Homo sapiens: one gene and its partners. The protein of the gene in region 3 interacts with the protein of the main gene of each other region in a pairwise test. Each region holds a gene or a part of one and is shown on either strand. Other genes may lie near its edges.

Region 1 (8,189 bases), on a different chromosome or scaffold from region 3:
GGAAATCTGCAAATCAAAACTATATTTGATATTCTAAATACTTTTAAGGCTATCACAAAAAAATTGTAGAAGTACCATTCTACATGTCTTATAACCAGCACTTCATAGTGCTGCCACAATAAATTAATATTTTCAAAGTGCATTCTAAAATGAATAAATTTTACATTTTCATTATTCTTTTACTAATTAGTCCAAGTAAAAATATTTTATTTGCATAAGAAAAAACCTTACCCATATTCATATAAAAGTCACATATCAGAAAAACACCTAAAAAATTAATACTAAGCATGTCCCACTGAAATCATCTTTATCTTCATTGCAGCAAGTATAGGAAGGGGTTTATGCTAAATACTTTTAAAATATCAGAAATTATGAAAATAGCACAGTTTATCACTGACATAAATCGATGATGACAAGGTAATGTAATTTGTAACTGTTAAACAAACTTGCCAAAATCACTCTGACACACTCTGACACTCTAGCATTTATCAATGCTACTCATGCTCAAGTATCCTCTTCTCAGGGCTGTCTTGATGGCCTACATCATATGAAGTATCTCACTGATGGAAATACTTTATCCTTTACAATTAGATCTGACTTTCTGAAATAGCTATATGTCATTAGAGACAAGTTTGGTAATAAGTTGTATGACCAATCTCTACCAACTTTTTACTTTATTGGAAATGTATCATTTTAAAAATGAAGTTCATAGTAGTATCTCAACCTAGCCCTAAAATCAATGTCAAGAGTATTCCCAAAGATGCTTGGAGATATGAAAGCTTAGTTTAAATAAGTAAAGCCTATGAAAGCTTTGAATGGTACTAAAATTATATGTTCTGATATACTTGTTGAGTCATCCTTTAATATTTATTATTTCATAATTTGTTAAACATTCTAGATTTAAACAAAATACAGCATGAAAATCTTTATAATTATAAATAACAATCCACAAATTGAACATGTGTTGAACTTTGAAAGTTCTTTCACCACCGATTAGCTAAAAGGAGCTAGTGGCTTGTTATATTACTTCTTGAATCATGTCTAACAAAAAAAATACTGTGCGGCACTGGGAAAAAAAAAAGAACTATAAAGACATGAAAAGACATGGAGGAAACTTAAGTGGATATTACTAAGTGAAAGAAGCCAATCTCAAAAGGCTACATACTTTATGATTCCAACTATACGACATTTTGAAAAATGCAAAATTGTGGAGATAATAAAATATTAGGCCAGGCACAGTGGCTGAGGCCTTTAATCCCAGCACTTTGGGAAGCTGAAGCTGGAGAGTTGCTTGAGGCCTGGAGTTCAAGACCAGCCTGGGCAACATAGGAAAACCCTGCCTATGCAAAAAATTGTTTTGGCCAGGCACAGTGGCTCATGCCTGTAATCCCAGCACTTTGGTAGGCTGAGGTGGGCAGATCACCTGAAGTCAGGAGTTCAACTGACCAACATGGCATGTTGTCATGTTTGTCATGGCCAACATGGCAAAACCCTGTCTCTAGTAAACATACAAAAATTAGCCGGGCATGGTGGTGGATGCCTGTTAATTCCAGCTACCCGGGAGGCTGAGGCAGGGAGAATTGCTTGAACCCAGGAGGAGGAGGTTGCAGTGAGCCAAGATCGCACCACTGCACTCCAGCCTGGTGACAGAGCCAGACTCCGTTTTGGGGGAAAAAAAAATTTTCTTTTTAAACTAGCTAGGTGTGGTGGTGCATGCCTGTAGTCCCAGCTACTTAGAAGGCTGTGGCAGGAGGATGGACGCTGCAGTGAACCATGACTGTGCCACTGTACTCCAGCCTGGGCAACAGAGCGACATCCTGACGCTAAAGAAAACACAAAAGCAAAAGCAAATTATTGGTTGCCAGGAGTTTCTAGAAGGGAAGGAAGAACAGGCATTAAAGAATTTTTCGAGCAGTGAACCTATTCTGTCTAATGCTACAATGGTATACAGTCATGTGCTGCCTGTTCTGGTCAATGATGAACCACATATACAATAGTGGTCCCATGAGATTATAAAAGAGCTAAAAAATTCCTACTGTCTAGTGACATCATAGCTGCCGTCACACAGAACAACTCATTACTTTGTGGTGATGGTGGTGTAAATAAGCTTACTGCACTGCCAGTCATATATAAAAAAGTATAGCATCTACAATTATGCATGGTACATAATACTTGATAATAATAAATGACTATGTTACTCATTTATGTATTTCCTGTGTTATACCCTTTAGAGTATATCCTTCTACTTACAAAAAAAGTTAACTGTAAAACAGTCTCAGGCAGGTCCTTCAGGAGGTATTCCAGAAGGCACTATTACCATTGGAAATGACAACTCCATGCATGTTACTGCCTCTGAAGACCTTTCAGTGGGATGATGTGGAGGTGGAAGACAGTGATATTGATGATCCTGACCCTGTGCAGGCCTAGGCTAATGTGAGTGTGTGTCTCAGTTTTTAACAAACTTACAAGCGATTTTTAAAAACTAAAAATTTAAAAAATAGGAAAAAAGCTTATAGAATCAGGATATAAAGAAAGAAAATATTTTATACAGCTGTACAATGTTTGTGTTTTAAACTATGTTATTACAAGAGTCAGAAAGTTAAAAAATTAAAGTTACAGGAAGCTAAGGTTAATTTATAATTCGAGAAAGAAAAATTTTTAAATAAATTTAGTGCAGCCCAAGTATAGAGTATTGATAAAGTCTACAGCAGTATACAATAATGTCCTAGGCCTCACATTCACTCACCGCTCACTCACTGACTTACCCAGCGCAACTTCTAGTCCTGGAAGCTCCATTCATGGTAAGTGCCTTATACAGATGTACCATTTTAAATCTTTTACATTGTATTTTTACCATACCTTTTCTGTGTTTAGATACACAAATACTATTGTGTAACAATTGCCTACAGTATTCAGTACAGTAACATGCAGTATTACTGTATCATACAGGTGGGATCATACAGGTTTGTAGCATAGGAACAACAGACTATACCATACTGCCTAGATGTGTAGTAGGCTATGCCATCTACATTTGTGGAAGTACACTCTATAATGTTTGCACGACAAAACTGTCTAATGAGGCATTTCTCAGAACATATCCGTCTTTAAGCAACACATGACTATATACACGTCACTATACATTTGTCAAAATCCACAGAACATATAACACCAACAGTGAACCCTAATGTGATGTAATGTAAATATGTAGACTTCAGGTGATATTAATGAGCCAGATGTACTGCTCTGGTGCAGATGCTGATACTGGGGGAGGTTGTGCATGTGTGAGGACAGAAGGTATACTGTACTTTCTGATCAATTTTGTTGTGAATCTAAAATTGCTCTAAAACACAGCTTATTAATTTAAAATACTTCTCCTTTGTATGTAGTTATGAATTTCTGTTCTTTCATTGCTATTGTTTTTAATCCAAGGAATACTGAAGAATACATATAGAAAGCTCCCTGCAAAGTTAAATTTAATTATGTTATTTGCAGTAAAAATGAAACAAAAGGATGTAACCCAATTTTAAGTACTGTAAACCATTAAATGTAGCTACTTATTTCAAACTTACTTTGAAATGTGACACTACTAAAAAAAGGGGTTGGGGTGCCCCAAGGAGCATGCCAGGGCCTATTGTTTCTGCCATTAACAGAAAGGATGTGGAAAAAACATGCTTGTAGCGTCACTGCTGCCAAATTCTGCCCACCATATTAGGAAACTGATAAGCTCTGGTTCTGTATATCATTATTTATTAAAAGCTTACTTTGCATAAGTAGAGGAAACCACAGGCTCTTGTCAGGATTTGGAATGGAGAGAAAAAGGTCTAGGGACTGTATGATGCTAAAAGCCACAGCCTAGTGGCTACTGCAGAATAGTTTACAAAATATGAATGGTTGGTTCATTGCTGTAATTTAGCTTTGCTGTGGTGTTAAAGGCCAGCAGATGAGAAAATGAATACTACCTTCCTTCATAATACCGTTTCAGGAGAATCTTAAGAATAAAAACAAACATGAGTATCATCCACCTTAGAAAATGATGCAAAAAAACAAAACAAAACAAAACAAAAACAGCCAAAGAGTTTAATGGCTAAATTAGGAATATTTTTAAATTCAGGGGTAATAAAAGAACCATGTTTCCCACTCCTTATTCACTGTTCTATCTCCCAGCTGCTTTCTGCTCTGAACATAAAACGTTCTTTAATGTAAATATCTATGTAATTCACTTCTGCTTAAAGAGGGCAGCATGATACAGATTGTAGCCCTCTTTATTTTTCATTCCAATATTTGTCAATATCAACTCTTCTGCTGCTGCTGTTTTCAAAACCAAAAGCCTCAGCTCATATCTGACTATGGTGAATTTACATTCAATTCCATAAAAAGCTAACAAAAAAAGGATGAAAACAAAGAACAGATTAGTCATTCTTACAGGTCCATCTAAAAATCCTTATCAGTTAATGTATTGATGTCATATTAATGGCTAAGCAGTTATTCTGGAAAGCTAAATATTTCAGATAAAGGCCTTTTAAAAAGAAAAGTGCTTGTTTAGATGAACTATGTGGAAATAAAAACCACATGAAGAAAATACTGACAAAATACTAAAGAAGTGATAGGAACATGTAAAAGATGACTGAATAGGCCACTTGAAACTTTGAGGCATCAAAGCCTTGGCAGCTGAACTGTAGATTTTAGAGATTTTACAAACCTCATTTTAATATCCATACTGGATCTATGATAGAAAATAATTGTTCATAATTCAATTATCAGTAAGTAAATTGAATATCTCACTTTCTAGTAAATTGAAGACAGGGACCCAATAAAATGATCTTCAGGGTAAGGAGTTTTCGTTTATCTTGTCAAATTAAAACAATAAACAACGGCTGAAGAAATTCTAAATTGATAAGAGATCAAGTTGAAAGCTAACCGTAAACAAATTCATCATATACTACAAATTACCCCCAATTAAAATAATTACCAAAAATTTCCCAATTAGCCAGAATTGGTCCCAATTCCTCACTTTGTTCTTAAGCAGAAGCATTTGTCTTCAAAGCTAATACTTATACAAAGGAGTATAAAAATTTTCAACTCAATGCAATTAGAAATACTGCAATCTCTACACAGTCATTTAGAGAATGAACAAGTGAAATGTCTGCTGCTCATCTCTCAAAGGAAAGAAATCACTACACTTTCCCTGTGCTCTTACATGACTGCTCTTCTAAAAGCAGCATGTACGCCACTATTTCTGTAATTTTAACTTCAGTTAAGAGACATAGAATTAAAGAGTGGTCATACCTAAAGATCCAAAAGAAAAATATACCAATTTTATACAAAACTATGAATATCTACAAAATTGGAGTATATTTTGTCAACTCAAATATGTTACATATAATTAAATTTTAACCAGAAATGTAAAAAGTGTAAGTCGAATTAAAAAAATCTCATGCCTATTAATTCACAGTGAAATGAAAAAAAAAATTGCTAATTTTTCTGTAAACTTTTCAGTCTGCAATTAATAAAACTAAAAAAAGGTTTATGAAGTGTAAAAATGAACAAATATATCTGCTATTTAGCTATCTTGCTTTATTTCACCTATAAGTAGAATGCATGTTACTGTGTTTGTTTTGACAAAAGTATTTAAACTATCATACCTGAATTACTTTGTCTACCTTCAAGTCTTCGAGAGATGGATAGAGAGACATTTTTGCAGGATTCTTCTAAAGAAAAAAAGAAAGTTTTATTACTCTAATGTCATAGAAATTGAAATAGTATACACAGCTAACCACAGACACATAAACAAGTAGAACTATTTAACTCAATAAAAAACATTTAAATTGCAAAACATATTAAAAAATAAGAATATATAGGCCATACTAAAAGTTAGCTGATACTTAAGAATTACCAAACTACCTCTCCTTCCCCTAATAGTATTATTGAACTATATCCATCACCGATTTTTAAAATTCAAGTAAAAGTCCCTTCATTTTACAAATTTAGAAAATCAAATAGAATAGTTATGTGACTTACTCCTAACTTACACAAGTACTTGCAACTTAGCCAGGACTAGGAAACTACCCTTAGTACAATGCCCTTGGGCATTACACAGCTACATTTCCTTCTAACAATAAAAGCCTAAAAGCAGATCATATGCAGTATCAATACATGAACCTCTATTACTAAGAAAAATATATACACACATATATGTATACAGAAGAAACTATATCAACTGCTAACAGATTTTTCTTCAGAAGACAGATGGTAAAGGAGTGAGGAATAAGAGGGAAATTTTTACTTTTCATTTAAAATACTTCTGTATTAAGTAGAAGTATGTTTTTTAGTTATAAATTGCTTTTTGTAATAATTTAAAACACAATTCTCTAAATGTATTATATGAATGCATATTTTAAATTTTATTTAGCTGTTTTGAGATGAATACCTGATACTTTCACTCAACCCAATAAAACAGAATATATGCTAAACTGGTATGTGGTTTAACGTAAGATTCTTGATTCAGGTATCAATTTATTACCTCCCATTTCCAAATCCACTTCTTATTGCTTTCTCTCCCAAAATGGAGCTGAGCTCTTTCAACATTGCTCTGTTACCAGCTGGCATGATGTTAAGCCTTGTCAGTAGAGGCAACTGGAGGTACACTGTAGGAGGAAGAGCTTTTCTCTTCATGGTTCCAACGTACTACTCTAGCCAGACTCCTGCCAGGAGTAGTTTCACAAGCATGCAGAAGCTCACCCCAGCACTCTATTGAGTAACTCTGCAGCAGAATGCCACCACCAAGGAATCTCCCTGAGCAGCTTTCTCAACCCCTTCACGTGGCTTCTGCAGCAAATTCCAAGGTTCAGAATGCCAGAGGGAGAATAAGTTCCAGAAGCATGGTATCCGGCAACTTCAGCATCTGCCAGTGACATCTGTCCCCTCTTCAACCAGACCTGAATCTCAGCCCCAGTATGGGAACAGCCCTAGAGTTAGTGGCTACTTATTAAGTCTGCTCTTACAGTATTCTTAAAAGTTGTCTTTACTTCTTACAAGTCAATTTCTATTTCTTCAATCATGTTATAACTAGTAATTCTGTGTATTAAACCTCCACTGTTAAAATCACTATATGGTCTCTGTCTCCTAGTTGGACAGTATGAGATAGTTTTTTTTTTAAATTTAATTCACACACTCTAAAATTCAGCCTTTCAAAGTATATAATGCAATGGTTTTTAGTATATTCACAGACTTCTACAATCATCTCCACTACCTATCTTTGAATATTTCCATCCTCCCCAAAAGAAAACTCATGCCTCCCCATTCTACCCTCCTTCCAGCTCCAGGCAACATACACTTTCCCGCCTCTGTTTTTACCTGCTCTGGATACTTAATCTAGAATCTTAGAATATGTGGCCTTCTGCATCTGGCTTCTTTCACATAGCATATGTTCAAGGTTCATCTGTGTTGGAGCATGTATCAGTATTTCATTCATTTTCATAGCAGAATAATATTCCATTGTATGTATACCACATTATATTTATGCTGTCATCAGCTGATGACATTTGGGTTATTTGCACTTTTGGCTATTATAAATAATGCTGTTAAAAATGCCAATGAGCATTTGCATTGTTAGCAAATAATATGTAAGTTTATATACTTTTTTAATAAATGCATCTTTAATTCTCTTGGAATATAGCTAAGCATGCAACTGCTGGGTCATATGGTAACTCTAATACCATCCCCTTGATGATTACAGGATTCAACATATGAATGGAGGGACACAGTCACAAACATTCAGACCATATCATAGACCACTATCATATATGATTTACAAATACTTTTCTTATTCTGTAGATTGTCTTTTCATTTTTTCTCACAGTGCATTTTGCAATATGAGGTTTTTAATTCTGACAAATTTGAATCTATATTTCTTCTTGGTTGCTTATGCTTTAGATATAACATCTAAGAAACTACTGCCCAACTCAAGGTTATGAAGACTTACCCTTATGTTTTCTTCAAAAAATGTTATGTCTTTAATTCCTGCATTTATATCTTTGATCTATTTTATGTTAATTTTGTACACGGTGTGTGGTATAGATCCATATTCATTATTATCCATGTGGAAACCCAGTTATTTCAGCACCATTTTTTGAAAATAACATTTTTGAATTGTCTTCGCATCGTTATTGAAAAGTGATCATAACTGTATG
Region 2 (8,420 bases), on a different chromosome or scaffold from region 3:
TGAGGCAGGAGAATTGCTTGAACCCAGGAGGTAGAGGTTGCTGTGAGCCAAGATTGCGCCATTGGACTCTGGCCTGGGTAACAAGAGCAAAACTCCGTCTCAAAAAAAAAAAAAGAGCCAGCTTGTGCAACATGGTGAGTTCCCATCTCTACAAAAACAATTAGCCAGGCATGGTGGCACGCACCTGTAGTCCCAGCTACTCAGCAGGCTGAGGCAGGAGAATCGACTGAGCCCAGAAGCTCAAGACAGCAGTGAGCCATTATTGTGCCATTGCACTCCAGCCTGGGAAACAGAATGAGACCCTGTCTCGTAAAAAAGAAAGAGTAAGTAGGCTGGGTGTGGTGGCTCACCCCTGTAATCCCAGCACTTTGGGAGGCCAAGGCGGGTGGATCACTTGAGGTCAGGAGTTCAAGACCAGCCTGGCCAACATGGTGAAACCCCATCTGTAGAAAAATACAAAAATTGGCCGGGCATGATGGTGGGTGCCTATAGTCCCAGCTACTCAGGAGGGTGAGGCGGGAGAATCACTTGAACCTGGGAGGTGGAGGGTGCAGTGAGCTGAAATCACACCATTACACTCCAGCCTGGGCGACAGAGCAAGACTCTGTCTCAAAAAAAAAAAAAAAAAAAAAAAGACTATGTAGCTTTTTTTTTTTTTTTTTCAGGTTCTGATTCTCTAATTAAAGGGAGTGGGTAGCTCTTATTTTATAGCATCTGGGAGTGTGGGACCCTGAGCCAGGCCCCAGGAGAGTTGCTAAGTGTTGCCTCTACTGTTCCAGAGATAGTCTGGGAGGAGCATAAGGATGCTGAGGCCCCACTAGTTATCTGTGTGACTTCAGACAAAATTACCTAGCCTGGCTGGGCACAGTGGCTCACGCCTGTAATCCCAGCACTTTGGGAGGCCAAGGTGGGAGGACTGCCTGACGCCAGGAGTTCAAGACCAGCCTGGGAAACACAGGGAGACCCCCATCTCTACAAAAAATTTTTAAAATTAGCTGGGCATGATGGCATGTGCCTGTGGTCCCAGCTACTCGAGAGGCTGAGGTGGGAGGACTGCTTGGCCCCAGGAGGTTGAGGCTGCAATGAGCTGTGATCACACCACTGCACTCCAGCCTAGGTGACAGAGCAAGATCCTGTCTCAAAAAAAAAAAAAATTACCACGCCTATCTGTGTTTGAGTCTCCTCATCTAAGAGTGAGGATGCTGAGAATAACAGTACTGAATCCCCAGGAGGCTGGAAAGATGAAATAAGTTAACACATGCCAAAGTCTGGCTACTTTGCTCCCGCTTAGGTCCTCACCTTCTGGGCCCAGTAATACACGGACTCTGGGTTGTTGATCTCCTTGCCCAGCCGGGCGATCATCTTAGAAGGCGTCCACTTTACACCCTAGGAGAGGATGTGACCTTCAGGCCATGCCTCCCCTGACTCCCACTGAACTGGCCCCTCCAGGTTGCCCCAGCCCCACCTCTGTGTTCTGCTCCATCACCATCTGGTCCAGAATGGGCATCAGCCAGTCCTCAAACTTGCAGTAATTCTCATTGGGCACCAGCAGGTTTCCGATCCTGAGAACAGGAGGCATGTAGGCATCAGGCCCCAGGACCCTTGGTCCAGCTCCCCTGCCCAACACCACTCAGGGTTCTCACCTATTGATCCCGTTCTCCCGGAGCTCCTTCCCCCTGAGGCTAAACTCGCCCAAGTATGTGGGCGCCAGGCACTTGATGAGGTCTTCCTCCACGCCGCCAGCTGTGGTCACCAATACGTCCACCTGCAGCCACAAGGCAGTGAATTTGGCCCAAGAAGGAAGCCCCTGCCCTCATTCTGGGCAGAACTTCTAACCTCATCCTTGTCCAGTGACTCTTATGAGGGAGCTCTGCTACAAAACAAAACTTGATTCTATTCCTCTGCTTATAACAGACCCCTATCTGCCCATCTCACTTAAACGATCAATAACTGCATTGCCCATTGACCCAGAGGCCAAGGCCACGGCCTCACCAGGTCCCCACCATGTTGTGCTGCACAAGGTAGCGAATGGTCTCACGGATGCCTGAACTGATGAGGTTGGATGTATATCCCAGGAAAATGGTGCAGCTGGTAAGTGGGCGGCGGCTCTGGGTCAGGTCCGCGTGCTGGTCTTCATCCTGTGACAGTGGTTCCAGCTTCTTCTCGATCTGTGAGTAAGGGCCAAGTCAAGTTAAGCACTGGCCTTAAATCCCAGACTCAGGACTCCAGGTGGGCTCCAGAAACAGATTTCACCCCAGGCCCTGCACATTCAGGGATACAGGACCAGTTCTACAGGGGACCAAGGAACATCTCCTGTGTAAACTCTGCCCCTTCCCAGACCAGATCTCAAGACACACGTTCAGGATTTGCCCCCACCCTTTTTTTTTTTTTTTTGGACGGAGTTTCACTCTTGTTACCCAGGCTAGAGTGCAATGGCGCGATCTCGGCTCACTGCAAGCTCCACCTCCCGGGTTCAAGCGATTCTCCTGCCTCAGCCTCCCGAGTAGCTGGGACTACAGGCGCGCACCACCATGCCCGGCTAATTTTTTGCATTTTAGTAGAGACGGGGTTTCTCCATGTTGGTCAGGCTGGTCTCGAACTCCCGACCTCAGGTGATCCGCCCGCCTCGGCCTCCCAAAATGCTGAGATTACAGGCATGAGCCACCGTGCCCGGCCTTTTTTTTTTTTTTTTTTTGAGACAGAGTATCGCTCTGTCACCAGGCTGGAGTGCAGTGGCGCAATCTCAGCTCACTGCAACCTCCACCTCGCGGGTTCAAGCGATTCTCCTGCCTCAGCCTCCCGAGTAGCTGGGACTACAGGCGCGCAACACCATGCCCGGCTAATTTTTTGCATTTTAGTAGAGACAGGGTTTCACCATGTTGGCCAGGCTTGTCTCGAACTCCTCTTCTCTTGATCCACCCGCCTCGGCTTCCCAAAATGCTGGGATTATAGGCATGCGCCACCGCGCCCAGCCAGCCCCCACCCTTTTAGGAATCAGAGAGCATCTCCTTTCAGATCCGGTCCCTTCCCCGCTGGGAAAAGCAAATCTAAATTCAAGAACCGCCCAGACTTAGGCTCCTCCTCCCATATCCTCCCTTAATTTGTCTTGCCCCAGGCTCCGCCCATTCCAGAAAGCTTTAAATGTACCTAGAACCCGCCCCCACACCAAGAATCAGTCCTCGCCTCCTCAGGTTACCGTACCAGCATGTAACTACCAGAGTGCAAAATCCCCTTCCCAGGACAGAAACTCCCGCCCAGAATAGGTCCCGCCTTCCTCCAACTATTGGGCAACTCAAATAAAAGACATATCCCCTCCACTGGAAACGCTGCCCCCGTCTAGTACCGCGTTGGTTCTACAAGCCACGCCCCTCCGCGTCCCTAGAAATTCCGCCCGGTCCTCACCATGGCATTGACTTGCTGTACAGCGCGCCCGAAGTTGGTTGCTTGGAAGCCGGTGGTGCCGAAGGCCTCCAGCAGTGCGCGGTAATTCACACCGCGGTTGAAGTCGTAGCCCCGGACCTGGGTGCTTTCGGGCGGCAACGTCGAGCTGTGCTTTAGCACGGCGGCCAGCGCCCCCGCTGGCGCCTCCCGTTCCAGGGAACCTTCCATGCGCCTATAGCCGGCTCTCGAGTCAAAGCTGCCCCTAGGCCGGGCTTACGGCGGCCCAGAAACGCGTTAAACCCCGACGCGCGCGTCTCCGCAAGAGCACAGGAAGTAGGGAACGTGCTTTGGGCGAAAGACCGGAAGTTGGTTTATCACGTGACCATTTTTAGCCCCTGTAAACCAGGTCGCCGCCATTTTTGTGCGTGTGTTCCGTAATACGGAAGCCGCGAGGAGCCTTTAGGCCCTTTCTTTCTTTTTTTTTTTTTTTTTTTTTTTGAGACGGAGTCTCGCTCTGTCACCCAGGCTGGAGTGCAGTGGCGCGATCTCAGCTCACTGCCAGCTCCGCTTTCCGGGTTCACGCTGTTCTCCTGCCTCAGCCTCCCGAGTAGCTGGGACTACAGGCGCCCACCACCACGCCCGGCTAATTTTTTTGTATTTTTAGTAGAGACGGGGTTTCACCTGGTCTCGATCTCCTGACCTCGTGATTCGCCCGCCTCGGCCTCCCAAAGTGCTGGGATTACAGGCGTGACCCACCGCGCCCGGCGCCTTTAGGCCTTTTCTTCCTTTTTTTTTCTTTTTTTTTTTTTTGATACAGGGTTTCGCTCTTGTTGCCCAGGCTGGAGTGCAATTGCCCGATCTCAGCTCACCACAACCTCCACATTCCGGGTTCAAGCGATTCTCCTGCCTCAGCCTCCCGAGTAGCTGGGACTACTGGCATGCACCGCCATGCCCGGCTAATTTTGTATTTTTAGTAGAGGCGGGGTTTCTCCCTGTTGGTCAGGCTGGTCTCGAACTTCCGACCTCAGGTTATCCGCCCGCCTCAGCCTCCCAAAGTGCTGGGATTACAGGCGTGAGCCACTGCGCTTCGGCCTTTACTTGTTTTCATGTGTTCTCGACTTCCCATGAATGAAGATTCTTTTTTATTTTTATTATTTATTTATTTAATTTATTTTTGAGACAAGAGTTACACGCTCTTGTTACGCAGGCTGGAGTGCGGTGGTGCAATCTTGACTCATTGCAACCTCTGCCCCCCTGGTTCAAGCGATTCTCCTGCCTCAGCCTCCCGAGTTGCTGGGATTACAGACACCCACCACCAGGCCTGGCTAATTTTTTATTTTTAGTAGAGATGGCATTTCACCATGTTGGCGAGGCTGGTTCTGCCCTCAGGTGACCGCCCGCCTGGGCTTTCCAAAGTGCTGAGATTACAGGTGTGAGCCACCGTCCCCAGCCAAAATTCCTATTTTAATGCCACCTGCTGGAGACCCACTGCTTGGCCCGGCACTCGCCCATTCGTTTCTGTTCTGTCCCCTCGGGAGGGGAGGATGGTTTTGTTGTTGTTGTTGCTGTTTTGTTTGTTTGTTTGTTTGAGCTAGAGTCTTGCGCTGTCTCCCAGGCTGGAGTGCAGTGGCACGATCTCGGCTCACTGCAACCTCCGCCTCCCAGGTTCACGCCATTCTTCTGCCTCAGCCTCCCCAGTAACTGGGACTACAGGCGCCGGCCACCACGCCCGGCTAATATTTTGTATTTTTAGTAGAGACGGGGTTTCACCGTGTTAGCCAGGGTAGTCTCGATCTCCTGACCTCGTGATCCGCCCGCCTCAGCCTCCCAAAGTGCTGGGATTACAGGCATGAGCCACCGCGCCTGGCCTGCTGCTATTTTTTGATAGGGTCTCACTCTGTCGCCAGGCTGGAGTGCTGTGACGCGATCTCGGCCCACTGCAACCTCTGACTCCCGGACTCAGGTCATCCTCCCACCCCAGCATTCCGACTAGTGTGCACCATCGTGCCCAGCTAATTTTTTTATGAGGGTCACTTTTTTTTTTTTTTTTTTTTTTGAGACAGAGTCTCGCTCTGTCGCCCAGGCTGGAGTGCAGTGGCGCAATCTCGGCTCACTGCAAGCTCTGCCTCCCAGGTTCATGCCATTCTCCTGCCTCAGCCTCCCGAGTAACTGGGACTACAGGTGCCCGCCACCACACCCGGCTAATTTTTTCTGTTTTTAGTAGAGATGGGGTTTCACCGTGTTAGCCAGGATGGTCTCGATCTCCTGAACTCGTGACCCGCCCGCCTTGGCCTCCCAAAGTGCCAGGATTACAGGCGTGAGCCACTGCGCCCGGCCGAGGGTCACTTCTTAAGCGTCACCCATGGACAAGATTTCGGTCACCAGGCAGAGTTAGACACAGTTTCATCCTTCCTCAGCCACTTTTGTCTAATGGGATAGTGAGCCCGGTTCGTGCCCTCACAAGTCTCCAAAGCCTTCACATGCTGCATAACGCTCTGTTCTTCCTTCCCTTATAGCTGCAGCTGTCACCTCCACCTCCTCTGGGAAGCCTTCCCTGAACTCCCACTGGGTCAGTGGCCTCTTCTGGGACCCAGGGCTGACGTCTCTTTCCCTCCTGCAAGAATGTGAGACCCTGGGTGTCATCTGTATCTCAAACACACCCTCCTAACAGTGCATACGGCCAACAGGATTATTCACTCACTCTACAATTCATGTAGTCTATTCTCTATGGTGGGCTCCGTGCTAGGCACTAAGGATTTAGTGGTGAACAAGACCAAGATGTGGACCCTGCCCTACTGGAGCCCACAATCTGATTGGGAAGATAGAAAGTTAACAATAGTGGTGAGTGCTATCAGGCCTTTTTTGTTTTTTGTTTTTTTTGGAGACAGAGTTTCGCTCTTGTTGCCCAGGCTGGAGTGCAATGGCGCGATCTCCACTCATCGCAACCTCTGCCTCCCAGTTTCAAGCAATTCTCCTGCCTCAGCCTCCCGAGTAGCTGGGATTACAGGCATGAGCCATCACGCCCGGCTAATTCTTGTATTTTTAGTAGAGATGGGGTTTCACTATGTTGGTCAGGCTAGTCTCGAACTCCTGACCTCAGGTGATCTGCCTGCCTCGGCCTCCCAAAGTGCTGGGATTACAGGTGTGAGCCACCGCGCCCAGCGCAATCAGGATTTAAACAGGATAATTTGAGTCTTTAGGTGGAGGAGTTCGGGATTTTAGTTGGAGGGATGGGTGAAGGACGCCAAGGAGGTGAGATTTGAGCCAAAGCCAGAAGGCTGAGAAAATCCCCGTATGTGAAGATGCAGAGAGGCCATTTCCTGCACATGGGAAGACAGAACAGCAAAAGCCGTGAGGCTGGAATGAGCCTACCTTGTTGGAGGAGACAGACATCCTCCTTGACATCCTCGCTTGGACCTCAAAGTTGCCCCCTCAGCTCCCTCTCCACCTATCCCTGATCTTTCTGCATCTCAGCAAACGGCCCCACCCTCCACTCATCCACTAGACTGAAAAATAGGGATTGGGGCTGGGCGCGGTGGCTCACACCTGTAATCCCAGCACTTTGGGATGCCAAGGAGGGCAGATCACCTGAGGTTAGGAGTTAGAGACCAGCCTGGACAACATGGCGAAACCCCGTCTCTACTAAAAAATACAAAAATTAGCCGGGTGTGGTGGCGCACACCCATAATCCCAGCTACTCAGGAGGCTGAGGCAGGAGAATCACTTGAACCCGGGAGGTGGAGGTTGCAGTGAGCTGAGATGGTGCCACTGCACTCCAGCCTGGGCAACAGAGCGAAACTCCGTCTCAAAAATAGATAAATAAAAATTAAAAATGAGGAGCGCAGCTTGCTGTCTCCCCTTTTCTCACACCCCACATCCATCCTTCTCAGCATGTCTGCCAACCTCTACCTATAAAGTAGGTCCGAAATCCAGGTGTTTTCTTTATCCCCATAGCCTGCAAGCTGGCTTTGGTATCCTCCAACCCATCTCCCACCTAACAGCTAAAATCAGAGAGCTTTTTTTTTTTTTTTTTTTTTTTTGAGACGGAGTCTTGCTCTGTCGCCCAGGCTGGAGTGTAGTGGTGTGATTTCGGCTCACTACAAGCTCCACCTCCCGGGTTCACGCCAGTCTCCTGCCTCAGCCTCCCAAGTAGCTGGGACTACAGGCGCCCGCCACACGCCCAGCTAATTTTTTGTATTTTTAGTAGAGACGGGGTTTCACCATGTTAGCCAGGATGGTCTTGATCTCCTGACCTCGTGATCCGCCCACCTCAGCCTCCCAAAGTGCTGGGATTACAGGCATGAGCCACCGTGCCCAGCCGCTGAGCTTTTTTTTTTGATGCAGGGTCTCACTCTGTCACCAGGGCTGGAGTGCAGTGGGACAATCACACCTCACTGCAGCTTCGACCTCCTGGCCTCAAGTGATCCTCCCACTTCAGCCTCCCCAGTAGCTGGGACTACAGGTGCATGCCACAGCTCTTTAACCATAAATCAAACATGTCACTGTTAAAACCTCCTAATGGTAGCTTCCCCCTGGGAGTAAAATCCAAGCTTTTCACAGTGGCCTTAAAGGGCACCTCTCAACCTCCCTGCTGCCATCTCCCACCATGCTGGCCCTCCCTCCCTCTCTCCTCTCCAGCTACACAGACCTCTTTGCTATTCCTGGAACCCACCAAGCTCTTTTTTGTCCAAGGAGTCAGGTACTTGCCGCTCCTTCTGCCTAGAACACCCCATTTCTCAGTTCCTTCTCCTCCTTTGGGCCTAAGTTCAAATGTCACCTCCTCTGAGAGGCCTGCCCTGACCACTCCTCTCCCCTTTACTTTGATTTTATTCTTCTTTCATATGCCCTTTCACATGTATACTCTTTCACTGAGTACATTTTCTGTTGTCCATCCCTGCCTAACTAGAAAGGCAGCTCCATGAGGGCAAGGTTTTGTCTTGTTTCATTGCTAATTTGGGTTTTTGCACAGTGCTGGGCACATATTAGAATCTCGGGGCAGGGCTCAGTGGCTTATGCCTATAATTCCTTTGGAAGGCCAA
Region 3 (8,189 bases):
TCCACATGCAAACATACTTTTTTGTGGTTTTAATCTAGTAAACACTTTTATATTTTCACTTTCCTACTTGTCATAAATGTTTTCTAGGTTGCTTTGAAGTCTTTGTAGAAATTTGAATTGTCTTGCAAGTGGGTTTTTTTAACCAGGTAGATCTGGGTTTGGATCTAGTTCTGTCACTTTCTAGTTGGATGATTTTGGACAAGTTATACACCTTTCTGAGCCTGTTTTCTCATCTACAAAATAGTGATAATAGGAGGATTAAATGAGAAAATGTACCCCATTAAGAACTCCATAAGTAGATACGTACCAAAAAGTGCTGTTCTGTTTCCCCCTTTTCCTATGTAAAAATTCTACTTAATCATTTCATTATTGTTGGAGCACCAACTTTGATGTGGTACATAGTAGGTGCTCGAAAAATATTTGTTAAATGTATATGTGATTACTGAATGTGGTAGAGATAGTACAGCAGGCTAAAGTTGAGCGTAGAATGTTGTCAAAATTGGGTTTCTCTTTTCGTCTTAAAGTATGAAAGCTTTGACTATTCAATATTAATTATATTCAGTAATATTCATTCAATATAGAATGCTTTTGCCTGTTGCATGTTTCAGAAAGATGGTATCAGCAGTTCAGATAATTACTATTATACTATGATAAGGTTAGCCAGTCATTGATTGGAGCTCAAGACTTAAAGGAAAAATTTGGTTTGGGTCCTAGACTAGGATGAGGCAAATGAAGTGAGGGAGGCTCTTGCCTCAGGCACAAAATTTTAAATAAAGACAGAACTAGTAACAATGACAAGCCATATAGGAGCTCAAGGCGCAAAGAAAATTAATTCTGATCCCATCTTTATTTAGAATTTTGGTATTTTATCATAGGATTTTTGCATTAATTCTAATTTTTTAAAATATTGCATTAAAATGCCTATCTGATCACTGAGGTTTTTTTGGTGCCTTCTTTAATTTTGCACCCAAGACAAGTGTCTTACTTCACCCTTGTCCCAACCCTTGGTATGTACTCCGCACTGCAAAGTGGATAAGAGGATGATTTAAGCCAGGCAGGCCTGGTCCTAGTCTTACTTTGGCACTTAATAGCTGTGTGACCTTGGTTGACAAGTTACTTAACCTGTTTTGCTTCCATTTCTTTCTTTATAAAGCAGAGACATAAATAATAACGCCTCATGGGATCATTTTGAGGTTTAATTAGTTAATACAACAACGCCTGGCATAGAAAGTATTCAGTATTTCTCTGCTCTTCATTTTCAAGTCAGCATAGAAAAATAACTTATTTCTGTTAATTGTTTAAAAAACTAGTTCTCCAACCTGGGCAATGTGGTGAGACGCCATCTTTACAAAATACAGAAAAAAAAAAATTAGCGAGGCATGGTGGTGTACACAGCTGTAGTCCCAGCAGACCCAGAGGCTGAGGTGGGAGGATCACTTGAGCCTTGGGAGGTCAAGGCTGCACTAAGCTGTGATCACTCCACTGCACTCTAGCCTGGGCGACAGAGTGGGACCCTGTCTCAAAAACAAAAGTTCTGTGGGCCTTTCTATTTATATTTATTGTGCTATGGTGGTCTTCACTTACCTAACCAAGTGCCTTGATTAAATATCTACTCATTATTTGGCGTGTGTAATCCTTTATGTTTGCTGAATTCAATATTTTGAGTGCCAGTTCGGCAGTTGGCTAAAGAGAAATATGTATTCTGTTCATTATGATAATTAAAAAGTAAACAGGAAACAAAACGTATTAATATTTATAGTTTTAATTTTATGTGTTTTAAAATAAGTTCAGAATGAAAGAAAAATTGTCTCCTAACTTCTCTTTCAAGATTAGCTTGGATTAGAATTGCTCATTTACATTACTTCTCCCAAAAGTAGTTATAGATGTCCGGGACTGAGTGATGTTGAAAATTATAAATGCATCCAGATAGACCTTTGGGAATCCCCAAATTCATACAGAAATGCTTATTCAGACTTTAGCACTCTCTGGAATCATATTTCTTTAGAAAGTTCTGTGTTGATATGAACTTCACCACAAGTTAAATGCCGTTTCTGCATTTACTACAGTTTTACCTGTCATTTGAAAACCATTTTCCAGAAGGAAGACTAATTACTATAGACACATAAAGTATATATTGTAGACCTTTGGATTATTAGTGAATTGCCAAAACTGTGACTATTAAATTCTAGTATATTCTTCAAATAAGTAGTATATTATTTGAATGTTTAGATATGTTAATTGAATTCAAATAAGTAGTATATCATTTGAATGCTGAGATATGTTAATTGAATTCAAATAAGTAGTATATTATTTGAATGTTTAGATATGTTCATTGAATTCCTTGAGCTTAAAGTCTTTTTATAATTTTTACCTGTTTCATGGGAATCCTTGTGTTCTCAGATGGAAGCAGTCTTTCTTTGGAAATAGAAAACCTCTAAAGCAATAGGGCCCAATGTTGCGAGGACTAGAAGCAAATATTTGTTACAGGATCATTAAGGGTAATCATGAGAAGAGCCACTAACTTTAGTTCCTAGACCTGTGTATTCTACCTATAGGAAAAATAGCATCATATATTGAAATATATTGTAACCTGCAAAAAACAGCACTCCAGGCCAACAAAGTACCATTCAGCAGGTGCCATATTTGAGTCTTCACTAGGCTGATCCACAGAGGCAAGCTGTTTTGGAATGATAGGGTACGTGAGCCAGCGAATTATCTGGGTGTTGCACTGCCTTGTTACTTTGCCTGTAAAATTAGTTTTCTAGTCAGAAGTGATGCAGTGTGAGATACTATGACAGGAACGAGGCATTCTGTAAATTGAGATGAGATTTTAGCAGAAGCACTGCAGGCAAGAAAGGCAAATCCATATGCAGAGTAAAACTATTGCAATAAGAAAAAATTGCTGCCTGTTTCATGATGGAAGGGGTACAGTCAGGTGGCCAGCTGTTCTGGGAAACATATTAAGACTTCTTGTTCTTCTGTTCTGTGTTCTTCTTCTGCCATATCAAGACTGACCTGTTTCTGTGAGGTTTTCAGTAGTGGCTGTAGTCAGATCAGTCTTGGTGAGAGAAAGCCCGTGTCATTGATCCCACTGAGCAAAGATGAGAGAAGCTACAAAAAGAAGCTGAGGCCGGGCACAGTGGCTCACACCTGTAATCCCAGCACTTTGGGAGGCCAAGGCGGGCAGATCACGAGGTCAAGAGATCGAGACCATCCTGGCCAACATGGTGAAACCCCGTCTCTAATAAATACATAAATTAGTCAGGCGTGGTGGTGCATGCCTGTAATCCCAGCTACTCAGGAGGCTAAGGCAGGAGAATCACTTGAACCTGGGAGGCGGAGGTTGCAGTGAGCTAAGATCCCGCCATTGCACTCCAGCCTGGGCAACAGAGCAAGACTCCATCTCAAAAAAAAAAAAAAAAAAAGGAAGGCTTCTGTACATCTCTACAAAAAATACAAAAATTAGCCGGGTGTGGTGGCAGGCACCTGTAACCCCAGCTACTTGGGAGGCTGAGGCAGGAGAATCGATTGAACCTGGGAGGTGGAAGTTGCAGTGAGCCAAGATCACACCACTGCACTGTAGCCTGGTGACAGAGCAAGACTCGGTCTCAAAAAAAAAAAAAAAAAAAAAAAAGGCTGAATGGCATTCACACATTAGCTCATAATCAGTGCAAATCCACACTTCTGGTTCTGTCTTCTTTCAGGTCCAGTGCTTGAAGTTCTTCCCAAACCCACTTTCAGGTTGACCCCTGAATGGTGTCATCATATAATGCATAACCATCTAGAAACCATTGTGAATATTTTCCTTTCTCAGTCAGCTGGTCATAGGCAACTGTCCATCTAGTCATTGGTATCAGTTGAAGGAGAAGTGTCAGTGTGGTAAGACAAAGTGTTTTCTGAGTCTGAGCCACTTCTTATACAACTTGTTTGTACCTTTAGGTCCTTCTCAAGCTGATCTCATATATGCTACTTCCACTCAATGATGGAGAGCTGCTGTGCGTTCCCAGTTGTGTGGCTTGATGGGTCAGATGATGGGTCAGGTTATGGTGGTGTTATTTGCTTAGGCTGTACAATAATAGTGATAAAGCATTCAGTCTCTCAGATCACTGTATAATAATAGTGATCAAGCATTCAGGGACCAGCAACTCTAAGGAAGTAGCACAAGAGTGCTACACTCTGGGGGAAAAGAAGGAAGAAATAAAAAGGAATAGGTGTTACCTAAACAAGTCTGGTTGTTTTGAAATAGATTGAGAAACAAAATTAAATTCAGAAATTAGAACTAAGAAGGCACCTGTCCAGGCACTGTGGCTCACGCCGGTAATCCCAGCACTTTGGGAGGCCGAGGCAGGCGGATCACGAGATCAGGAGTTCGAGACCACCAGGGAGGTGGAGGTTGCAGTGAGCCAAGATTGCGCCACTGCACTCCAGCCTGGCGACAGAGCCAGACTCCATCTCAAAAAAAAAAAAAAAGAAGGCACCTGTAGGGATAATATACCTTCTCCAGCCTTCTGTTGTATATCAGTAGTACAAATGCAGGCAAAATAGTTTCCCAATAATTCCCCCTTTTCAGTGTTCTTTCCTATTCTGACTACATCTAAGACAGAATCTGCAGTCATTAACTCTCCCCACACTCCCTTTTAGATCATGTTTTGCTTCCTTAGCTTACTGTGCCTCCCAGCACTTAGTGGTTACAGTGCTTATTCTAGAATTCATATATACTATAGCATTTTTTGTTTCACTTTTTATTGTGGAAATTTTCAAAGTATAGTATAATGAATCCTGTGTACCTGTCACTCAGCTTCAACAATTACCAGTGTGATTAATTCTGTCTCTGCAATTTTTTGACAAAGACACTGGATCATTTCTTCTGTAGACTTTCCCACTGTATGGATTTTGCTAATTGCATTTCCTTGTTTTTTAACATGTTCCTCTGTCCCTTGTGTTTCCTGAAACTTGGTAGTAAGATATAGAGTCTTAATCAGATTCAGTTCAGATTTTTATTTTCTTCCTTTCTTTCCTTTAGCAGGACTACTCCATAATGTTCTATGCAATCATTAGATAAATAAGTCTGATTGTTTCTCCTTTTGTGATATTATCAGATATGTGAATACTGCCTCAACATATTAATTGGAGGAGAAAAAATTTATGATCTGTCATTCCTTCATTTGTTTCTCTTAGCCAGAATACTTCTATAAAAAGAAACTTCCCTTCATCAATTTTTGTTTGTTTGTTTGCCTTAAGAGACAGTACCAGTGTCTGTGCGTGTAGCGGGGGTGGGTGTATTTGACTCTTTCCCTTTAAGGTACAGTTTATAAAATAAATTGGTTCCTAGCATCCACTAAAGATGATGAAATACATATTTTTTTCATTATAAACTCGAGCATTTAAACATATTTGTGTTTCAATCCATTGTTGTTAGTGTCCTTATTTATTCTCACATTGTTCCATCTTGGCCAGTGGGAGCTTATTCAAGTTAGCTCTTGAGTCCCTTTGACATGGGCCTAATTTTAATTCTCCTTGATAGCTCCTTGCTTTTTAGTACAACAGCTTCTCCAGGTTCATCTTACACACTTCCTGATCTGGACCTGGAATTATGCAAGGAGCCCTAGAATATTTTAGTAGGAAATAAAAAATACCCCATTCTTTTTTTTTTTTTTTTTTTTTTTGAGATGGAGTCGTGCTCTGCCACCCAGGCTGGAGTGCAGCGGCGTGATCTCAGCTCACTACAACCTCTGCTTCCTGGGTTCAAGTGATGCTCCTGCCTCAGCCTCCCAAGTAGCTGGGACTCCAGGTGCCATCACATCTGGCTAATTTTTGTATTTTTAGTAGAGACGAGGTTTTGCCATATTGGCCAGGTTGGTCTCGGACTCCTGACCTCAAATGATCCGCCTGCCTTGGCCTCCCGAAGTGCTAGGATTACAGGTGTGAGCCACTGCACCCAGCCAAAAATACCACATTCTGATAGCCTTATAACCTTATATACTGCTCAGGAGCTTGGTACGCCTCCACATGCCTAACATCTCTAAAGTTTTTTGACCCTCACCTCTGCTGTCTCCCTGCTTGCTACTAACAATAATTACTTTCTACCAAAAAAAAAAATGTTCAAAAACATCTAAAAGTGATCAAATCAGTAGGTTTGTTTAAAGGTAAAGGACCAGAAGAAGATACTTACAACAATTTCCTTACCATCCCCACCTTCCAACTCTATGGAGTCAGAGAGGCCTTTGAGAGAAGATAGAAACATTTGCACAAAAATATGCTTGGGGACTTGACGATGACACTGTTGGCTTTTTTTTTTTCTTAAAGCTTGCAAATTACAAAGGGGGAAAGTGTAACTTTGGAGTGGAAAAATCTGGCAGATAACTACCTTAGTCAGCATATCAAAGTTGGCATCACTTGTAATGGGACAAATTGACATTTGCCTCCTGATAGGATACTCTGAGGACACATCATTTGTATAGTATTCCTTTCAAAAATGCATTACCTTTATCATGAGGAAACAGTGAGACAAACACAAACTGAGGAATATTCTATAAAACAGTGAACCCCCAGGAGTTTGAGACCAGCCTGGGCAACACAGGAAGACCCTGTATCTACAAAAAATAAAAATTAAAAAAATAAAAAATAAAAAAAATCCCAACAGGCATAGTGGTTGTATGCCTATGGTCCCAGTAACTCGGGAGGCTGAGTTGGGTGGATCACTTGAGCCCTGGAGGTTGAGGCTGCAGTGAGTCATGATCATGCCACCACACTCCTGCCTGCATGAAAGAGCAAGACCTGGTCTCAGAAAAACCAAACCCCCCAAAAAACAAAAAGATACCATGAAAGTTAAAGGGTGGAGGAAACTGTTAGAATTAAGAGACTAAACTGACATGATAGCCAGATAAATACAAGGTATGACCCTGGAGTTAGGGAAATAAGTTGCTATCCAGGACAATACTAGGACAATTGGCAAATTTAAATATGTACTATATATTGAATAATAGGTTATCAATATTAAATTCCCTGATTTTGAAAAATAAATTGTTGTTATCTAAGAGTATATCCTTGTTCTTGAGAAAAATACACTGAAGTTTTAATTGCTGAAAAGTCATGGCTGTTGCACTGAAGTATTTATTGCTGAAGAATCATGATCTTTGGAACTTACTCTCAATAGTTCTGTAAAAATAATAAGAATATATATGATATATATATATATTGGATGTATACATAGAGAAAATAGTGCACATGTGATTAAATGTGAACAATGGATGTATCTAGGTAAAGGATATGGGATTTCATTGCATTATTGCAACTTTTCTATAGAACTTAAGATTTTTTAATAAATAATTCAATTTAAAAGATTGTATTAGTCCATTTTCACACTGCTATAAAGAACTACCTGAAACTGAGTAACTTATAAGAAAAGAGATTTAACTGATTCACAGTTCCACATGGCTGGGGAGGCCTCAGGAAACTTACAATCATGGAGGAAGGTGAAAGGGAAGCAAGGCATGTTTTATATGGCAGCAGGAGAGACAGCAAGCAGGGGGGATCTGTCAAACACTTTTAAGCCATCAGATCTCATGAGAACTCACTTACTATCATGAGAACAGCATGAGGGAAACTGCCCCCATGATCCAATCACCTCCTACCAGGTTCCTCCCTTGACATGTGGGGATTATAATTCAAGATGAGATTTGGGTGAGGACACAGAGCCAAATCATATTATTCTGTCCCTGGCCCCTTCCAAATCTCATGTTCTCACTTTCAAAACACAATCATGCCTTCTCAACAGTCCCTGAAAGTCTTAACTCATTCCAGCATTAACCCAAAAGTCCAAGTCCAAAGTCTCATCTGAAACAAGGGAAGTCCCTTCCGCCTATGAGCCTGTAAAATGAAAAGCAAGTCAGTTACTTCCTAGAAACAATGAGGATACAGGCATTGGGTAAATACTGTTATTTCAAATGGGAGAAATTGGCCAAAACAAAGGAGCTACAGGTCCCATACAAGTCCGAAACCTAGCAGGGTAGCCATTCAGTCTTAAAGCTCCAAAATAATCTCCTTTGCCTCCATGTCTTACATCCAGGGCACACTGATCCAAAAGGTAGGCTCCCAAGGTCTTGGGCAGCTCCACCCCTGTGGCTCTACAGGGTACAGCCTCTGCAGCTGCTTTCACTGGTTGGTATTGAGTGCCTGTGGCTTTTCCA
Region 4 (6,244 bases), on a different chromosome or scaffold from region 3:
ATCATGCCACTGCTCTCTAGCCTGGGCAACAGAGTGAGACTCCGTCTCCAAAAAAAAAAAAAAAATGACATTAAAAAAAAATGACATTTCTTTTGAGCAGTGTTCCTTTGTATTTTAATAATCCTGTATTTAATATAGATTAAGTAAATATTTAAGTTATAATGGATGTCACATAAAATTTCCTTTAAAGATAGGTAAGAAGATAAAATAGATACTTAAAAGGAAATAAGGGAGTCAAAATACTAGAAAAAAAATCAAACACAAAAGGCGGCAGTAATGGAGAAAACATAAGTGAAAGATGCCGGACACAAAGGACCACATGTTTATGATTCCACTTATAGAAAATATCCAAAATAGACAAATCCATAGAAATAGGATCCAGGGGATGGGAGGAGGGAATTATTACTTAATGGGGGCTTCCCTCTGTGGTGATGAAAAATGCTTTGGAACTGTAGTGGTAACAGTACCACAACACTGTAAATGTACTAAAAGCTACGGAATTGTATACTTTAAAATGGTGAATTTTGGAAGGGGGGGGCAGGAAAATAAAATGGCGAATTTTATGTTATGTGAATTTTACCACAATAAAAAATAAACAAAAAGAGAAAAAGTTGCTTTACACAAAAGCATGAAGTAAAAATTACATGTGGTATGGTAAAATAGCACAAATCATAAAAGCAATCTAAGAATGCCTAAAATGGAGGGAATATTGCTTTAGCCAGATTACCTGAGAACGCAGTCCTCAGGTGGAGAAAGGTGTATCTGCCCTGCCCAACCAGCAGCAGGCAGGCAGGGGCCTCGCAGCCCAGCGCAGGTGCTGTTTAGAAAGGGGCATCCACATGGATAAAAGGCCCAGATTAAATGGGGCAGGATGATATTTTGAGATATCTGACTTTGTTCTTTCTGCTCTGGAATTTCATTCCCTGGCCCTGCCCCCTGCCTGCGGCAGCCAAGTTCATTGCCAGGAGAGGGAAGTGACAGAGCAGAAATCGGGAACAAAGGACTGTGGAAGAAAAAAAAATTACAGGTAAGTCATCTAAAAAGCAATAAAGTAACAGTAATATGAATAATGATTGTGTATACATATTTTCAAAACAACATCCTGATAAATCTCATTCTGATTCTGAAATTTAGGTGAGAGACTGGAATGTAGGCAGAACTAGGAACAAGGACAAACAGAACTTCTTATCACTGCAAAAAGGCTACTACCTAGAAGTGTTCAAGCCCAAGTTTTTCAAGCATAATGTTAACTAACCAAGGGCAGAGATACCCAAATGGATCCATCCCATCTACAATTAAACTAAGGACAGAATCACTTGAGCTCCTTCCAAAGAATGTTAAGTAAACAGATTTTATTCAATCTTTCCTAGAGTTTATAATGAACATTTGTTATTTAATATGGTAGTTATATTACAGTTTTACCTTACGAGCGATAGAACATTTGGTGAATAAGATTAACAAACCGGAAATGATGATACCCTCGAAGACACTCTCTGGAAGCACACCAGTCCCACTGACTCATGTTACAAATTTAAGTTGGCATCCAGCTGATTTGTAGAATGTGTTATCCTGATGTTTCTGCAATTATACCACCTGAAGAGGGTCCCTGTCAGTCTCTGATAGGATAATATTTATCTTATTCTCCAAGTGAGAATCCAGCATATCTCGAAGGTCAGAAAGAAAGCCTCGTTCAGTGTTGCTGTGTTCACAGAGGATGACATTTATTCCTTGGGAAGCAGCATCCAAAGTATCATGATGGGACATCTCACCTACCAAAAAGGGAAGAGCAAATTCTTAAATGCTAAATATGGAATCTGTGGAATGAGGAAACACAAAAGCAGAAATACCAAGTTTGTAGTCTATATGAAGTGAATGTAATAGAGCAGAACTGTTTTACATATAAATCTAGAAAGTAGTGTACAGTTTTCTTTTATGTCCTCCAACTTAAAAAGAGAGAAAAGTCTGGGCGCGGTGGCTCACGCCTGTAATCCCAGCACTTTGGGAGGCCTAGGCAGGCAGATCACCTGAGCTAAGGAGTGCTAGACTAGCCTGGCCAACATGGTGAAACTTCCATCTCTACTAAAAACACAAAAATTAGCTGGGCGTGGTGGTGCGTGCCTGTAATCCCAGCTACTCAGGAGGCTGAGACAGGTGAATAGCTTCAGTCCAGGGCCTGGAGGTTGCAGTGAGCCGAGACTGCACCACTGCACTTCAGCCTGGGTGACAGAGTAAGACTATCTTGAAAATATAAAAATAAAATCCATCCCACTGAGAATTCCAACTTCTTTTTCCTTAGCAGACCCCAAGGCAATTATCCAATCCAACATATCTGGCCAGAACCAGATCTGTAAACACCCATTCAAAGTGTTTCCACGGTAAAATGAATGATCACTGCCAAGTAAAATGAGGCCTTCAGAAAATTTGCCTCTTATGTAAGTAATAAATACCTCTGGAGGAAATTATATGTATACTGCCCAGCAGACTTATGCTTTGTAAGCACCAGTATTTCTGTCGTCAACTTAGTCTAATATATAAGGATGAAATGAATTTAAGATTACTTCCAGGTTAAAAACAAAGTATTTTTCTTTGACTTAAGCAAAATCCCTAGAAACTCTGGAGGGAATCTCATCTGTTGTGAAAAGATTTGGGGAAAATTCATATTCTGAATTTTTAATTTATATTGTTAATTTTTTTTTAGATGGAGTTTTGCTCTGTCACCCAGGCTGGAGTACAGTAGCACGATCTCAGCTCACTGCAACCTCTGCCTCCTGGGTTCAAGTGATTCTCCTGCCTCAGCCTCTCGAGTAGCTGGAATGACAGGCACCCACCACCATGCCTGGCTAATTTTTGTATTTTTAGTAGAGATGGGGTTTCACCACGTTGGCCAGGCTGGTCTCGAACTGCTGGGCTCAAGTGATCTGCCCGCCTCAGCCTCCCAAAGTGCTGGGATTACAGGCGTGAGCCACCATGTCCAGCCTAATATTCTGAATTTCTTAAAATGCAGTTTGTGAATTTGATGACTTCTAATTTAAGAGCAAAACTGTACTGTGTACAATTAGGTTTGTTCTTTAAAAAGTACAATTTTGAACTGTATTTAGAGACAGAAGGGCATATAAATTTAAGAAAAAAGGGTTCTTGGAAAAAAATGAGTTCTCTTTTAATTTTCCCATAAGAAAACACCTATAAGTAAAAAAATGAGTTTTCTTAATTCCAGAATTTTTTAGTTCCCCACAATCTCCTCCTAATAAGTGTCATCTCATTATAAGGAACAGTTTTTATTCAAGCACCTTTTAAAACATCTTAATCTATAATAGTAGAAGTAAAAAGCAAGAAAAAGACACTAAGATGGCCCAGTTGGAAGCCTTGTTTTAGGAAAGGTAAGTCTGGCTGCCTGTACTGTGACAAATTCATTGGCTGGAGAAGGCATGAAAGGGGGGAAATCAGTGAAGACCCTGCAATAATAGCTGAAGCCAATGGAAAGAAAAGCTTGGCCCAGGATGGCAGCTTGGGAAAGAATAAGCAAATGGAGAATGAAAAGACAAATGGGAGAACTTAATTTACAAGGAGCAGGCTCCCCATCTGCTGGTCTTACGGGGTATTACCCTTAACAACCTAATACAATGAGAACACGGCCTCAGGCTCACAGGAAGCGTGATGAAGTTCAGCAGAGGTCCTTTAGGTGGGGCTTCACATCTCTGAAGTTATACTCAAAAGTGATGCCTCACAGACCAGAGACAGCTAATGCTAGCCGGATAATATATTTTCTATTTCTCCCCACAGCCAGATAGGAAGGACATTTTAACATTTTGGAACTGCTTGAATTTATCTTATGCACGTATCATTATACTTTATCATTGTTTTAAAAAACTAGTTTTTAAAAAAGTATAAGGAAACAGATACCCCAAATTGAGAGAGAAGCACAAAACAAAGAGCCTATACTCTTTAAAAATGTCAATGCTATGGAGACAAAGCTGAGAAACTATTCCAGACTGAAGGAGACTAACAACAACTAAATGCAATGTGAGATCATTGGCTGGATATGGATCAGAAAAAGAAATGCTATAAGCTTTTATCAATTGGGAAAATGTGAATATGGACTGTATATCAAGTAAGTGTTTTAACAATATTAAATTCCCATGTTTGATAATTGTTCCATGGACTTAGAATGTCTTTGTTCTTAGACTATACACTGAAGTATTGAGAGGTAAAGAAATTGTCATGTCTGCAATTGATTACAAAATGGTCCTAGGGGAAATACATCAATATATATATAGAACATATTTTAACTTGTATATATTATGTATCTATACATGCAAACACAAATGTGTATAGACACATATATAATATGCACATAGGGAATGTACAAATATGGCAGAATATAACCATAGTAACCAAGGTGAAGAGCATATAGGAGTTCAGTATACTATTCTTGCAACTTTTGCATAGGTCTGAAATTCCTAAGTAAAATGCTAAAATGAATTTTAAAATAGCCAGACACAATACTGTAAGATATTCATATTGAAATTTCACTTTAATCTGGTAGAAATTTAAGGGCTTACAAAAATCTTTTATCTTCAGAAAATATAAAATAAGTAATAGTCACATACATGTTTTGTTTTTTTAAATCAATTTATTGGTTTAGAGCAATTCCATCAGGCTTGCTCAGATGCTGCTCCTCGGTACTTCAGGATGTGACAATGCTTTGAGTGCAGCAGCCTTTGTAAGAGAGTGTGCTATATAACAAAGTGTGGGTGTGGGAGGCAAGGGAAGCATGGAAGTAGCCAAAGGAATGGCCAGAGGGCTAAGAGCCTAGAGCCTGGTCCTCAAAGTGGGAAAAGTAATTCTTTAACTCATTCTCTCCTAACCCTAAGAAGGAGGAGGTAAACAAAGTGGCAACCCCTTAAAATGCCTCCAAATCCTTTGGAGGTGTAAGGGGCCATGTTTGGCCATATTCCTGAGTAGTAACTACATAAAGTAATTCTTTCAATAAAAATTAGCCAGGACCTATTAGGTAGTATCCTAAATGAGAAAGTATAAGGCCCAGCAGCCAGACAATTACTATCCAACAGAAGTGCACATTGGAGGTCAAGGACAAAGTGATAGGGACCCACAAGAGGCAGGAGCAGGACAGTGTCAGAGAAGGCTTCTCAGAGGGGGTGTTCACTTATCACTAGGAGTACAAGGAAAAGGCATTCTAGCCAGAGAAAACAGCATAAGCAAAGGGTACAGGAAAGGGGATGCAATGTTCAGGCTCCACCAGACAGATGAAGGAAATCACTGAAGTCTTTTTAATCAAGACCATCAAATTTGCACTTTGAAAAGTTAATTTCAGGAGAGTATATGGAAGATACCATTAGAGGGTTGATGCTGTACTTCAAGTAGGAGATGGTGCCTGGATAGAGATAAGGGGGAAGATTCTAGAAAGATTTGGGAGCTTGAATTGATAGGAATTGATGATTGGCTTTAGGCTGAGTAAAAGGAACCATTTCCTAGCTAAGGTGACAGGGTAGAAAGTATCCCACTGATGTGAAATCTGAGAGGTTTGGGACAGTTTAGGAAGAATGTAGGTAAAATAAATGCTGACCATTAACTTTTGAGATAATGTAATAAACTGTTCAATGATTTCATCCCTCCACAAAGAATGCAGTAAGTCCCCAGTTCTGTTGTAGTTTCTGTTTAGTTCAGGTTCAGAAAACATTAATTAGGTATCATCTATGTGCCAGGTACTGTCCTAAAATTTGCCATTTTTGATTTTGCAAAAAATAAACCAAGAGAGATCCAAAGTCTGTCCTACCTGTGAGGTAAAGGTCAGCCTCAACACCCTGCAGAACGCTGCTCCCAGAACCAGCACACAGGGCCACGACTTTGACTTGAGACTCTTCAAAACAGAGGAAACAAGAGACCAATACTTTACAATTCCCTTTCATTTTACTATTATAATTTGTACCAAGAATCCTAAACATAATACAGATTTCACTCCTGGTCTCATCACCAGTATATGAATTGTTCTTACTGCATTTTAAAAAAAACATGTTTTAATATAAGCAAACAGGTCATTCTTTGATATTGCATAGCTAACCCAAGGCATGGTTATTATTCCTTTGTTGTGTTTTTTTTTTTCAACAACCTTTGTAAATTGCGCAAAATACGGAACAATGCACAAATTTGCGTGTAATCTTTGCATAGGGGCCATGCTAATCTATATCATCCAATTTTTAGTATATGTGCTGCTGAAGGGGGCACC

Evidence for each region.
Region 1: the proteins of EIF5A2 (region 3) and SDCBP interact in binary tests that used the Homo sapiens proteins (3 or more experiments, as listed by UniProt).
Region 2: the proteins of EIF5A2 (region 3) and DHPS interact in binary tests that used the Homo sapiens proteins (3 or more experiments, as listed by UniProt).
Region 4: the proteins of EIF5A2 (region 3) and NIF3L1 interact in binary tests that used the Homo sapiens proteins (3 or more experiments, as listed by UniProt).

Annotation. Positions count from the first base shown.
Region 1 is NC_000008.11:58,562,538-58,570,726, reverse strand, and holds part of SDCBP (syntenin-1), read right to left. Parts: intron 5,709-8,189; coding exon of another isoform or gene 5,694-5,708; coding exon 5,643-5,693; intron 1-5,642. UniProt on the Homo sapiens protein: Multifunctional adapter protein involved in diverse array of functions including trafficking of transmembrane proteins, neuro and immunomodulation, exosome biogenesis, and tumorigenesis.
Region 2 is NC_000019.10:12,678,158-12,686,577, forward strand, and holds the start of DHPS (deoxyhypusine synthase), read right to left. Parts: upstream 3,724-8,420; 5' UTR 3,610-3,723; coding exon 3,403-3,609; intron 3,214-3,402; exon of another isoform or gene 2,957-3,213; coding exon of another isoform or gene 2,876-2,956; intron 2,169-2,875; coding exon 2,004-2,168; intron 1,766-2,003; coding exon 1,644-1,765; intron 1,563-1,643; coding exon 1,466-1,562; intron 1,387-1,465; coding exon 1,300-1,386; intron 1-1,299. UniProt on the Homo sapiens protein: Catalyzes the NAD-dependent oxidative cleavage of spermidine and the subsequent transfer of the butylamine moiety of spermidine to the epsilon-amino group of a critical lysine residue of the eIF-5A precursor protein to form the intermediate deoxyhypusine residue.
Region 3 is NC_000003.12:170,897,844-170,906,032, reverse strand, and holds part of EIF5A2 (eukaryotic translation initiation factor 5A-2), read left to right. Parts: intron 1-8,189. UniProt on the Homo sapiens protein: Translation factor that promotes translation elongation and termination, particularly upon ribosome stalling at specific amino acid sequence contexts.
Region 4 is NC_000002.12:200,899,019-200,905,262, reverse strand, and holds the end of NIF3L1 (NIF3-like protein 1), read right to left. Parts: intron 5,879-6,244; coding exon 5,795-5,878; intron 1,770-5,794; coding exon 1,585-1,769; 3' UTR 1,338-1,584; downstream 1-1,337. UniProt on the Homo sapiens protein: May function as a transcriptional corepressor through its interaction with COPS2, negatively regulating the expression of genes involved in neuronal differentiation.